Regions from separate parts of the Homo sapiens genome. Here region 1 is linked to region 2. The links come from fine-mapping of genetic effects on gene expression. A gene starts in region 2. The other region holds a variant in brackets. All regions are shown on one strand. Distances are between the middles of the regions.

Region 1 (5,372 bases), 26 kb after region 2:
AGATGAGGAAGCTGAAAGACAGTTTGCATAGTTTCCACAAAGCCCCCGAGGGAGGGCTGAGGTTGAGTCCTAGAGCTTGGCGCTTTCTGCAGCCCCTCATTCCTTGAGCTCTGGGAGAAAGTCCTGATGGCCCTTAAGCCATGAGCACACTGGTGAGTGTGTGAGTCCCTCCTGTAGCTGCTTCCTTACACTTAGTTGTGAATTTCTGAGCTGGAGAAACCTGAGATTTTGACACATCCAAGTTACATTCATTTCCTTTTACTCTAAATGTTTTTTTCCCTTTCTTAAACTAATAGACAGTGATACAGTTTTCTTCACAGCCATCTATTTTACCATGATCCATCCTGGGTTTTTTTTTTTTTTTTTTCTGCCTTGAGTTTTATATCACTTTTCTGTTTAAGTTAAGCTTGTCACTTTCTTGTTTAAATAAAGTTGAGTCATGCCTAATTTTCTATTTTTATCAAACTGGAATTTCTTAGCCAAGTCATCAAGGCCCTATACTAAATCTTGAGTCATAACTTCATTCCTACTATGTTCTAATCAGATTTTCCACTTGAACCTACACTGTCTGTCCTGCCAACCCTCAGCTTGCTGCTTTCCCAAGGATCTGCAGGCAGCACTCCAGTACTGTTCAAAAGCTAATGCCGCTGCTGCTACTCTCATTTCTTACCTGTGCTGTTTTTCAACATGCTGTAATAGTCATCTCGATAATCTTCCCTGCTTGCTTCTACCATTAAACCCAGTTTATAAAGTATGACTCGAATTATACTTGAAGTCTGTGCTGATTAACCCCAGACATGTGGTGACCCCTAATCTAGTGCTCATGATCTCCGTACTTGGATCCCATTGAAGGGGTCGTGGAGAGTAGCAGTTAAGATTCTCCAGCTAGATGTCCTAGGTTCGGTTCCCACCTTTGCCACTCACTGCCTATGCGACTTCAGGTGCTTTAGTCTACTGTGCCTCAGCTTTATCTGCAAACGGGTTAAAAAATTGTCCCTGGCCAGAGTGGTGGCTCATACCTGTAATCCCAGCATTTTGGGAGGCCTAGGTGGGAAGATCACTTGAGCCCAGGAGTTCGAGACCGAGACCAACCTGGGCAACGCAGGGAGACCCCTCCCCCCAACCCACCCTACCAAAAAATAAAGTAGGCAGGTGTGATGCATGCTTGTGGCTGCGGCTACTCAAAAGGCTGAAATAGGAGGATCACTTGAGCCTGGGAAGTCGAGCTTTCAGTGAGCCGAGATGGCACCACTGCTCTCCAGCTTGGGTGACAGAGCAAAACCCTGTCTCAACAACAGCAACAAAAAAAAGTCCCTGCTACCTAGGGTTGTTGTGCAAATTAAGAGTTGTTGGCCGGGCGGGGTGGCTCACGCCTGTTATCCCAGCACTTTGGGAGGCCGAGGCAGGTGGATCACGAGGTCAGGAGATCAGGACCATCCTGGCTAACATGGTGAAACCCTGTCTCTACTAAAAAATACAAAAAATTAGTCAGGCGTGGTGGTGGGTGCCTGTAGTCCCAGCTACTCAGGAGGCTGAGGCAAGAGAATGGCGTGAACCTGGGAGGTGGAGCTTGCAGTGAGCTGTGATCGTGCCACTGCACTCCAGCCTGGGCGACAGAGCGAGACTCCGTTTCAAAAAAAAAAAAAAAAAAAAAGGTTGTTAAATGTAAAGCTTGTATATGTTAAGCGCGATTGAAGTGTTAACTTTGTTATATTTTTATTTGCTGATGGAGGTCTTTATCTTGGTGACATTGTACCTATAATGCTATGTCTCATTAGCTCCTTTACTTTCTGTTCTCCCTGGGAATACTGGGTAAAGATTGATCTTTGGATTTCTTCCTCCCCTCCTGTCTCCTCGTTTCCAGATAGACCTGGAACACAACTACCACTTGGTTTTTCCTAAGAGTAGGGTGGGTGTCCTCCTTCATGCCAGCATCCGTGTCTCACACTAGAATTCCATGCCATCCCTGCTCAACAGCATGCTCCTGGAGTCTCCAGCCAACTCCACCTCCTGGGGATGTGGAGGCAGAGGTGTGTGCAGCCGCTTGGCCTCCTGGTGGCCATGCTTGGGATTGGCATATTTCCTAGTGCCCCGGAGAAAGCACCCTCCTGTCCATCCACAACCCCCGCCACACCCTACCCCCTTGGCTATTTCCTTTATGAACTATGGCATTTGCTCCAGTTTCCCCATTTCTTTGCAGCACAGATGGCCCTCTTCTTTTAATGGGCAGAATAAGTAGGAAATGGAAGAAACAGCTGCCAGAGCACTGAATTTATCCTAGTCCTCCATAATTTCTTGGAAGATCTGCGAGTGGGGCCCAAGCTGTCTGCTACTGCGTGGAAATCATGCTTGTACCATACCCATCATAGTTAAACCCTGCCAAGGGCATAGGGCATTTTAATAGCTTGAATCCCTGTTGTTTTGCCCTCCTCTGTCCCCTTCTCCCCATGCCTTTTCTTTGAGGTAGGTGCGTGTGTTCTTTAAGACCCTTCCCTCAAAACAATCTTGGTAGCGAGACCAGCTATTATCTTTTTTAAGTTCAGTGTTCCCTAAAAGAAGGATGGTTAGACATAAGACATTTGTTAGCTTCTCTATTATGTCTTCCTCTCAGGATGTGTTTAGGTTGAACCATATAAAAGTGCTGATATTTAGCCCTTTTTGACCCACAAAAATAGTGGTTTCATGAAGTTCAACCTAACATGTACTTACTGGTTTGCTTTCATTTTACTGCACTCAAACCCACGGGTGCAGTCTCATCTTAGTTCACCAACTCTGCAATGGGACCCAGCCGGGAGCAGTAAGCAATTCTTCTTGCCAGCAGACAAAGCAGATTAATTCCCTTGGGTTGAA[T/C]GTTATGCCGGTCTCTTAAACATCAAAAACTGTTTGTTATGATCTAAACTGCTTCTATGGAGCAGATGTTGTGTCCCCGATGCAGCAGTGACATTGGAATCATTTAGTCCTTTTAAGGCAAGTTTGTTTTATTTTTCAGTCTTCACGTATAATGCTGCCAACAAGGAAACCTGTGAACACAACCACAGACAATGCTCCCGGCATGCCTTCTGCACGGACTATGCCACTGGCTTCTGCTGCCACTGCCAATCCAAGTTTTATGGAAATGGGAAGCACTGTCTGCCTGAAGGTAATTGACTGGGGCCAGGAACTCCTGTGTGTCTATTCCTGCTGCTTACCTGTTTCCAGCTACCACTGTGAGCTCTGCTTTATGGACCAAACATCTCCACTACTTAAATCAGAGTGCTATCAACTTGCAGGTGCTCAATAAATGTGTGAGGAATGAACTGGTTTGGGCTGATTCCCAATTTGAGGATTATCCAGAAATGCTTCCTTCTGCCAGCTCATTAGAGCCAAAGTGTAGTGGAGTAGAAGGAGGAGGGGAGAAAACAGACTGGAGGCAGGACTGTTTCATAGATGGATAATTGGTTGGTTAGGAAATCATTAAAGTGACTTGCTAAAGAGTGAGTTTTGGAAGTTGTCAGTGGAATAATTATACCTGGGTACACCCATCTCTAGCCAGGATGACGTCCAAGCCTAACTGGATTTGCTGTCTTTTAGGGGCACCTCACCGAGTGAATGGGAAAGTGAGTGGCCACCTCCACGTGGGCCATACACCCGTGCACTTCACTGATGTGGACCTGCATGCGTATATCGTGGGCAATGATGGCAGAGCCTACACGGCCATCAGCCACATCCCACAGCCAGCAGCCCAGGCCCTCCTCCCCCTCACACCAATTGGAGGCCTGTTTGGCTGGCTCTTTGCTTTAGAAAAACCTGGCTCTGAGAACGGCTTCAGCCTCGCAGGTGAGTAGGGCCTCTGAGAAGGCCGGTAGTCAGCATTGCTTTGGCAGTGGTGCTCCTTGGGGCACTGTCTTTAGGCCTTTACGCAGTGACAGAGGAATCACTTGTTTAATGTACTAGAGCCACATGTGTGTAGTTTTCTGGCCACAGGTTGTTGGGAATGGTTTGACCTCACATCACTGATTTTTGAAAGGCAGTGATTTCGTCTAAATGTTCTCCCAGCTGTTCTGAGAAACAGGATGATTCCATTCAGAACATTTGTGTCCTCTTACCCCAATTTGTTGCAGCATATTTGTCAGGCTTTTTAAATTATGCACAGATCTGTCAAATGCAAAAATGGTACTTGGGGCACCTGGGGATGATTTTACTTCATGGGGAAGGGGTGCTCTTCTCCTCCCAGCTCCACAACCTATAATAGTATAGGCCGGTGCACCCCAGACTTGAACCTGCACACACATCACTTGGAGGTCTTGTCAAAATGTAAATTCTGGTTCAGCAGGCCTGGGGTGGGGTCCGTGATTTTGCTTTTCTACCAAGCTAGGAGGTGAGGTACCAGTGTTGCTGGAAAGGCCACCCGTTGACAACAAGGATTTAGAAGATACTTTTTGGATTCTCACCTTCCAACCTGAAAACTTGTTTGCTAGAGGTTTTATCTTTATTGCATTAAAAATAGTTTTGTGAGAAGTTCTTTCTCCATCTTTAACTGCAGAGCTCGGTAGCTGTTAATAGGTTCTTGCTTTAATCAAAATTTGAATAAAGCCCTTGGGTCAAAAGTAGATAAAAAATGGCACACCTGGATAAATTTGTATTTCAGATAAACAATTTTCTAGTATAAGTATTACCCACATATTTCATGAGACATACTTATCTGAAATTCAAACAAAACCCTGAATGTCTTAGGTGGTAGTTTATTTGTTTTTGTTTTTTTGTTGTTAGGTTTATTTGTTTGTTTGTTTTTTGCTAAGTCTAGCAACCTTAGAGAAAAGTCAAGGACGTTCCCAAGAGTATTTCTCACAGAATACAAGCTTGTTCAAAGAGAAGCTGGGTGAGGTAAGGCAGGATGAAACCATATTCTTCAATGGAAAAGTTTGGGAACTTATGGAATCAACAGCTGATAGTGCTTACTCTCAGATATCAGATAATCTCCTTAGGCACGATCTCCAACAGCAGTAGAAATTGGGAGCGGGCAGTATATACTGGTAACTGTTTAAGCAAGACCTCTTTTCATCCCTGTGCTGAATGTTTTTCATCTCCAGGTGCTGCCTTTACCCATGACATGGAAGTTACATTCTACCCGGGAGAGGAGACGGTTCGTATCACTCAAACTGCTGAGGGACTTGACCCAGAGAACTACCTGAGCATTAAGACCAACATTCAAGGCCAGGTGCCTTACGTCTCAGCAAATTTCACAGCCCACATCTCTCCCTACAAGGAGCTGTACCACTACTCCGACTCCAGTATGTATAACCAGTCTTCACATCTGTAAAATGGGGATTATGCCCATCTCACAAGATAGATACAAGGCTTAAATGACTTACATGGCATGTCCTTAGAACAGT
Region 2 (5,372 bases):
GGATTCCAGGAAAGCTTCGTCCACCTGAAAGGAAAAGACAGAGGCACAAAATATAACAAAACATTTACTTGAGCCAAAGTGAGGACAGTTGCCCGGAAGACTTAGACCCAAGTAACCCTGGATATGAGCTTCATGCCGCCTTTATTACAAGCAGGTTTTTTACAGGCAGAAAAGGGGGACAGGGAGTAGGCCGATATGAAATTGTTTGTAAGGAATTCACATTGGTTTACAGAAACAACATTGCTCACTGATTGGCTATGCACTGTTAAGCTATAGGCTATGAGTGATAGTGTCCAGTGTGACATTATTAGGTTAATGTATAGTTACTTGTGGCAATAGCAAGCAGTTTCAAGGATGAATACATAGCTCAAAAGGGGGCAGTAGTGTTACTGGAAAGAGTTCCTGATCCAGACCCTAAGAGAGGGCTCCTGGATCTGGTGCAAGAAAGAATTTGGAGTGAGTCTACAAAGTAAAGTGAAAGTGACTTTATTAGATAAGTAAAGAAACAAAAGAATAGGCAGAGCAGTGGCGTCGGCTGCTTGACTGATTATACTTATGGTTATTTATTGATTATAAGCTAAATGGGGTGGATTATTAATGAGATTTTTGCAAAAGATGTGGGGAATTCTTTTCTCTTCCCAGATTCCTGAAGGAGGAGGGTTTTGATTCAAGCCTTAAAGATGAGAAGGTGTTGGCTTGAAATTGACCAAGAAATTGACCTTTTACTGTAGGTAAAAGGACTTACCTGTGAGGATGTTGTATTGGAGAATTAAAGTCTCAGCTTCAGGTGAGACTTCAGGGTGGCTGTGACGGGAGATAAAGTTAGAGACATAAACTAGAGCTACTTTCCAAAGGGCCTTGCTGCAATATAATTTAGTGGTTAGGAGTGGAGGTTTAGAGATCAGACAGAATTGGGTTCAAATCTCAGCTTTGGTACTTACCAGCCATGTGATAATAACTGATTTTTTTAAAATCCCATCTGAGCTTTAGTTTCCTTAACACAACGACTACCTGTTATCAGTTGTCTATTGCTGCATAACAAATTATCCCAAAATGTAATAGCTTAAAGCAACACACAGCTTCTTCAGCTTCTGAAGCTGAAGCTGTAATTCTCAGTTTTGGTTGGTCTGGAATCCCACCAAAACTATAATTATAATCTAACCAAAACTATAATTCTCAGTTTTGGTGGGTCTGGAATCTGCACCTGGCTTAGCTGGGTCCTCTGCTTCAGGGTCTCTTGCAAGGCTGCAATCAAATGTCAGCCAGCGCTGAGATACCATCTCAAGACCCAACTGGGGAAGGATCCGTTTCCAAGCTCACTGACATGGTTGTTGGCAGAATTCAGTTCCTTGCTGACTGTTGGCCAGAGGCTGCCCTCCTCAGTTCCTTGCTATGTGGGCCTCCCCGACATAACAGCTTGCTTCATCAAAATCAATGAGAGGGAAAGTCAACTAACAAGGAAGAAGCCACAATCTTATTTAGCCTTCTTCTCATCACTCTTGCCACACTATGTTTGTTAGAAATCACAAGGCCAGTCCACACTCCCAGGGCAGAGATTATACAGGGGAATGAACACCAGGAAATGGGGATCATTGGAGACCATCTCAGTGTTTGCTTGCCCCAAAGCTCATAGCTTAGTACCACTAAATAAATGTTAGTTATTATTATTATGCTGAATCGAGAGATAAAGTAAAACTACAGAGGGCCAGTAGTTTTATATCAGGGAGTAACTTCAGATGATGTTGGGCAAGTCAAGTCATCTGTCTTTGAACTTTCATTTCATCCTCAGTAAAATAAAAATACCTGACCCCAGAAAGAATGAGAAAATATATGTGCAAGCATAAATATATTTTTGGAACATCAAATATACAACTCTCCACTCTGAGGAAGCAAACTGCTTTGGGCCAGTTTTCCATTTTGTGTCTGCTCTATGAGTCTCACAGTCTGATGTCTTCACGTTTTTTAGCGTTTGGTCCAGTGGGCCCATAGGAATAAACACCTACAAAGAGCAGTGTGTCTCTGGAGAGTCCTTTAAGGCATTTCCAAGGATTTGCTTTTTGGTTTTTTTCTTTCTTTCGTTCTTTTTAAATATCTTTGCTTTTAAGGACCTCATGGGGGGCCTGGGAGAGAAAACAGACTGTCTGGGAAATTTTAAGCTCTTGATAATAAAAATGGTAATAAAATCTCCTCCAGCTCCTGAGGCTTCGCAGAGGGGATGTTTATGGTGGATGGGGTTCCCCTTCTCCTGCGCAGCTGGTTTCGAGGTTGTGCGGTTTCCAGTCCTGCGGAGCAGCTCAGGTTACCGCCTCCGTGGCCGCGGGGGAGGGCATCTCCGACGGCCGCAGCAATGGGCAAGAGATCAGGGTCTTCCCATCCCCGCGACTCGCCCCTTTCTGCCTGGTAACCAAGCGGGATGCCTCATCCTACTCCCCAAACGGAGCGGATCACACACAGTAGTATTTCATGGTCTTTCCTGCTGCGGTTTTCCCGGGGGAAGGTACTTCCAGAGGGTGGCCAAGTCTTCCCTAGCGGCCGGCCTTCGGGAGGGGGACAGAACTTAGGAGTCAGCCCTCTGCCTTCGTACAAAGGCTCGCTTCTCCTCAGGGCGTCTCTGGGTGGAGCGAAGCGGCCGAGGGGACCACGACAATGTCCCTTTGCTTTTCGGACCGATGGCCAGGCCTCCAGAGCCAGGAGCGCCCGGGACCCCAGGGCAGGGAGCAAAGCTCATACCGCAACCCCGCCACCCGCCCGCGCCCTGCCAGCCTGTTGGGGCCACAGCGCGCAGGCCAGCAGCCGCACTCGCCGCTGCGGGGTTCCCTTTGCGCTGAGCTCATCTCCTGCAACGCCGCTGCCCCAAACCTTGCGGGCCATTTGGTCCCGGGGGTGGGGCTCCTTGGGGGCCGCGGGGCAGCCCGGATGAGAGGATGACCCGGGAGCTCCCTGGGGGCGGAGTGGAAGGGGCAGCTCCAGGCAGCCCTGGCCAGGAGCTTTTACCCCGCCAGCCCCGCTGCTCCAGCGGCCGCTGCCTTAGAAAAGTTAACGAGAACCAGATGTGGTGGCCACTGCCGAACTTTCTCAGAGCCGGTGATTGGTCCCCAGCCGAGGGCCTCAGCCAATTAGCTTGCTGGGTGGGCCTGGAGTCCCGCCCCGCCCAGGCGCCCGCGGAGATCCAGGTTCGAGGCTGGCGCGGCGCGGAGAGTGGGCTGGAGGCCGGGGCGGGACGCGTTGTGCAGCGGGTAAGCGCACGGCCGAGCGAGCATGGAGGGGGACCGGGTGGCCGGGCGGCCGGTGCTGTCGTCGTTACCAGTGCTACTGCTGCTGCCGTTGCTAATGTTGCGGGCCGCGGCGCTGCACCCAGACGAGCTCTTCCCACACGGGGAGTCGTGGGGGGACCAGCTCCTGCAGGAAGGCGACGACGAAAGCTCAGCCGTGGTGAAGCTGGCGAATCCCCTGCACTTCTACGAAGCCCGATTCAGCAACCTCTACGTAAGTTCAGCCCCCTCCTGGCACTTTTCCCGCAGCTTCTTCCCTGGGGTCGGTCTCACGGAAACCCTGCCTCCAGAGGGGAGGAAACAGACCCCACTCCTGGAGCCCCCCAGCACCCTTGCGGTGGTACCCGGCCAGAGAGCGATGCCGCTGCCTGCCCCGCTGCTGTAGGGGAGCAAGAATGACCTGGAGGGGAGAGCAAGAATTGTTCGCAGCCACGTACGCGTCCCAGGCAGAAAAGGTGGCGTTGCTAGGGCGGCCAGCGGGCTTTGCAGTTAGGACCGCGAGAAGGCTGTGCCCGTCTGCGGAGCTGGGGTGTTCCCTCTTCAGACCTGGAGGCTTCCTCTCCGAGGACATGGGGCTCCGGGGTTGTGAGGGGAGTGAGAAGATAGGTGAACGAGTTTTAGGGCCCCTGGACCTACTGCAGCGCGGAGCTGGGACAGTCGCAAAAGTTGCGCTTGTTTCCCTGAATCCAGACTCCCTGGCCAGTGGGGAAGGAGAGAGAGGCTTTTTGCCTAAGTCAGTTCCCTTCCCTCCCTGCGCGAAAGGGTAGCGTCCTTGGGCTTGAGCGACTGTCACCTTTTTGTCCCTCTCCTCTCCCAGGTGGGCACCAACGGCATCATCTCCACTCAGGACTTCCCCAGGGAAACGCAGTATGTGGACTATGATTTCCCCACCGACTTCCCGGCCATCGCCCCTTTTCTGGCGGACATCGACACGAGCCACGGCAGAGGCCGAGTCCTGTACCGAGAGGACACCTCCCCCGCAGTGCTGGGCCTGGCCGCCCGCTATGTGCGCGCTGGCTTCCCGCGCTCTGCGCGCTTTACCCCCACCCACGCCTTCCTGGCCACCTGGGAGCAGGTAGGCGCTTACGAGGAGGTCAAGCGCGGGGCGCTGCCCTCGGGAGAGGTAAGTGACCAGGGATATTTGACTGCTGAGGAAATTGAAGGATGGGCTTAAATTCTGGGGCAGCGACCCAGGGACTGGCTCGGAGTTGTTTCTGAGCCTACTCTTGCGCTGAACCTGACCTTGGAGGCAGCAGGGCTGGAGTGGCTTGGGAGTGAGGAAAGACGTTGTCTCTAGGCATCTTCTGAGGCCCTGGCAGGTGGTCACTCCCTTGAGGAAAAAAATGCTTAGCGGATATGAGAGCGGGAGTGCAGATGTGGGAGCCCCTTTGAACATAAGGCAATTTACTGTTTGGTTGCTTATTTTTAGAACCATCTCTAAGTATACAAGTATTTCTAATTATATGTTCATTGAAGGGGAAAAAATCAGAAAATACAGATAATTTTAAAAAAGAAAACAACCACTCATTTTCCCACCACTGATAAACATTTTTCTGCGTACATTTTCAGAGTTTTTTCTTCTGCATATCTTTATTGCTGTCTATTAACAATGATGAGTTTACACTGCACATACTGTTTTATAACTTGCTTTTTTCACAGAATAGTGTATTGTAAATATGTTTCAATGTCAATAAATGTATTTCTACATCATTTATAATGATGCATACTACTGTATCCTGCTATTATCCTGTATAATAGTGGGTGTACCACAGTATGCTCAACCAGTGTTGGGCCATTAAGGCTTTTTCTGGTTTTTCATTATTATAAATAATAGCGTGAATCACTTTTTAAAAAGCTAAATCTTTGCACATGTTCTTAGTTGACATTCCAGGAAGTGCAATTGGTAGGTCAGAGAGGATGCACTTTTGATAAAGTTCTTGATAACTTCTGCCTAATTGCCTTCCAGGTACCAGTTTACAAGTTTCTTAGTTTATAGGAGTCTGCCGTCAATGTGCTTTACAGTCTCTACCTGCGGAAAGTAAAAAATTCCAGGCTCCTGGTCTTTAGTCTTGTCATCAACATTTGAAGTCCTCCAAATGG

Evidence for each region. PIP is the estimated chance that this variant, and not a neighbour inherited with it, causes the effect.
Region 1: its variant is the best candidate, but not a certain one, in a credible set for the expression of NID2 in whole blood (TOPMed, PIP 0.67).

Annotation. Positions count from the first base shown.
Region 1 is chr14:52,040,549-52,045,920 of GRCh38, reverse strand. It overlaps NID2 (nidogen 2), which reads left to right. Exons shown (of 22, transcript NM_007361.4): 6 at 2,990-3,139; 7 at 3,571-3,816; 8 at 5,070-5,270. Among named protein-coding and RNA genes, the nearest start is that of NID2, 26 kb to the left of the region's middle. The variant T/C (reference allele first, on the strand shown) is at 2,851.
Region 2 is chr14:52,066,881-52,072,252 of GRCh38, reverse strand. NID2 (nidogen 2) reads left to right here and starts at 3,194. Exons shown (of 22, transcript NM_007361.4): 1 at 3,194-3,486; 2 at 4,090-4,395. The coding sequence starts at 3,259. LOC105378180 (a long non-coding RNA gene) reads right to left here and starts at 3,017. Exons shown (of 2, transcript XR_943864.4): 1 at 746-3,017; 2 at 1-24.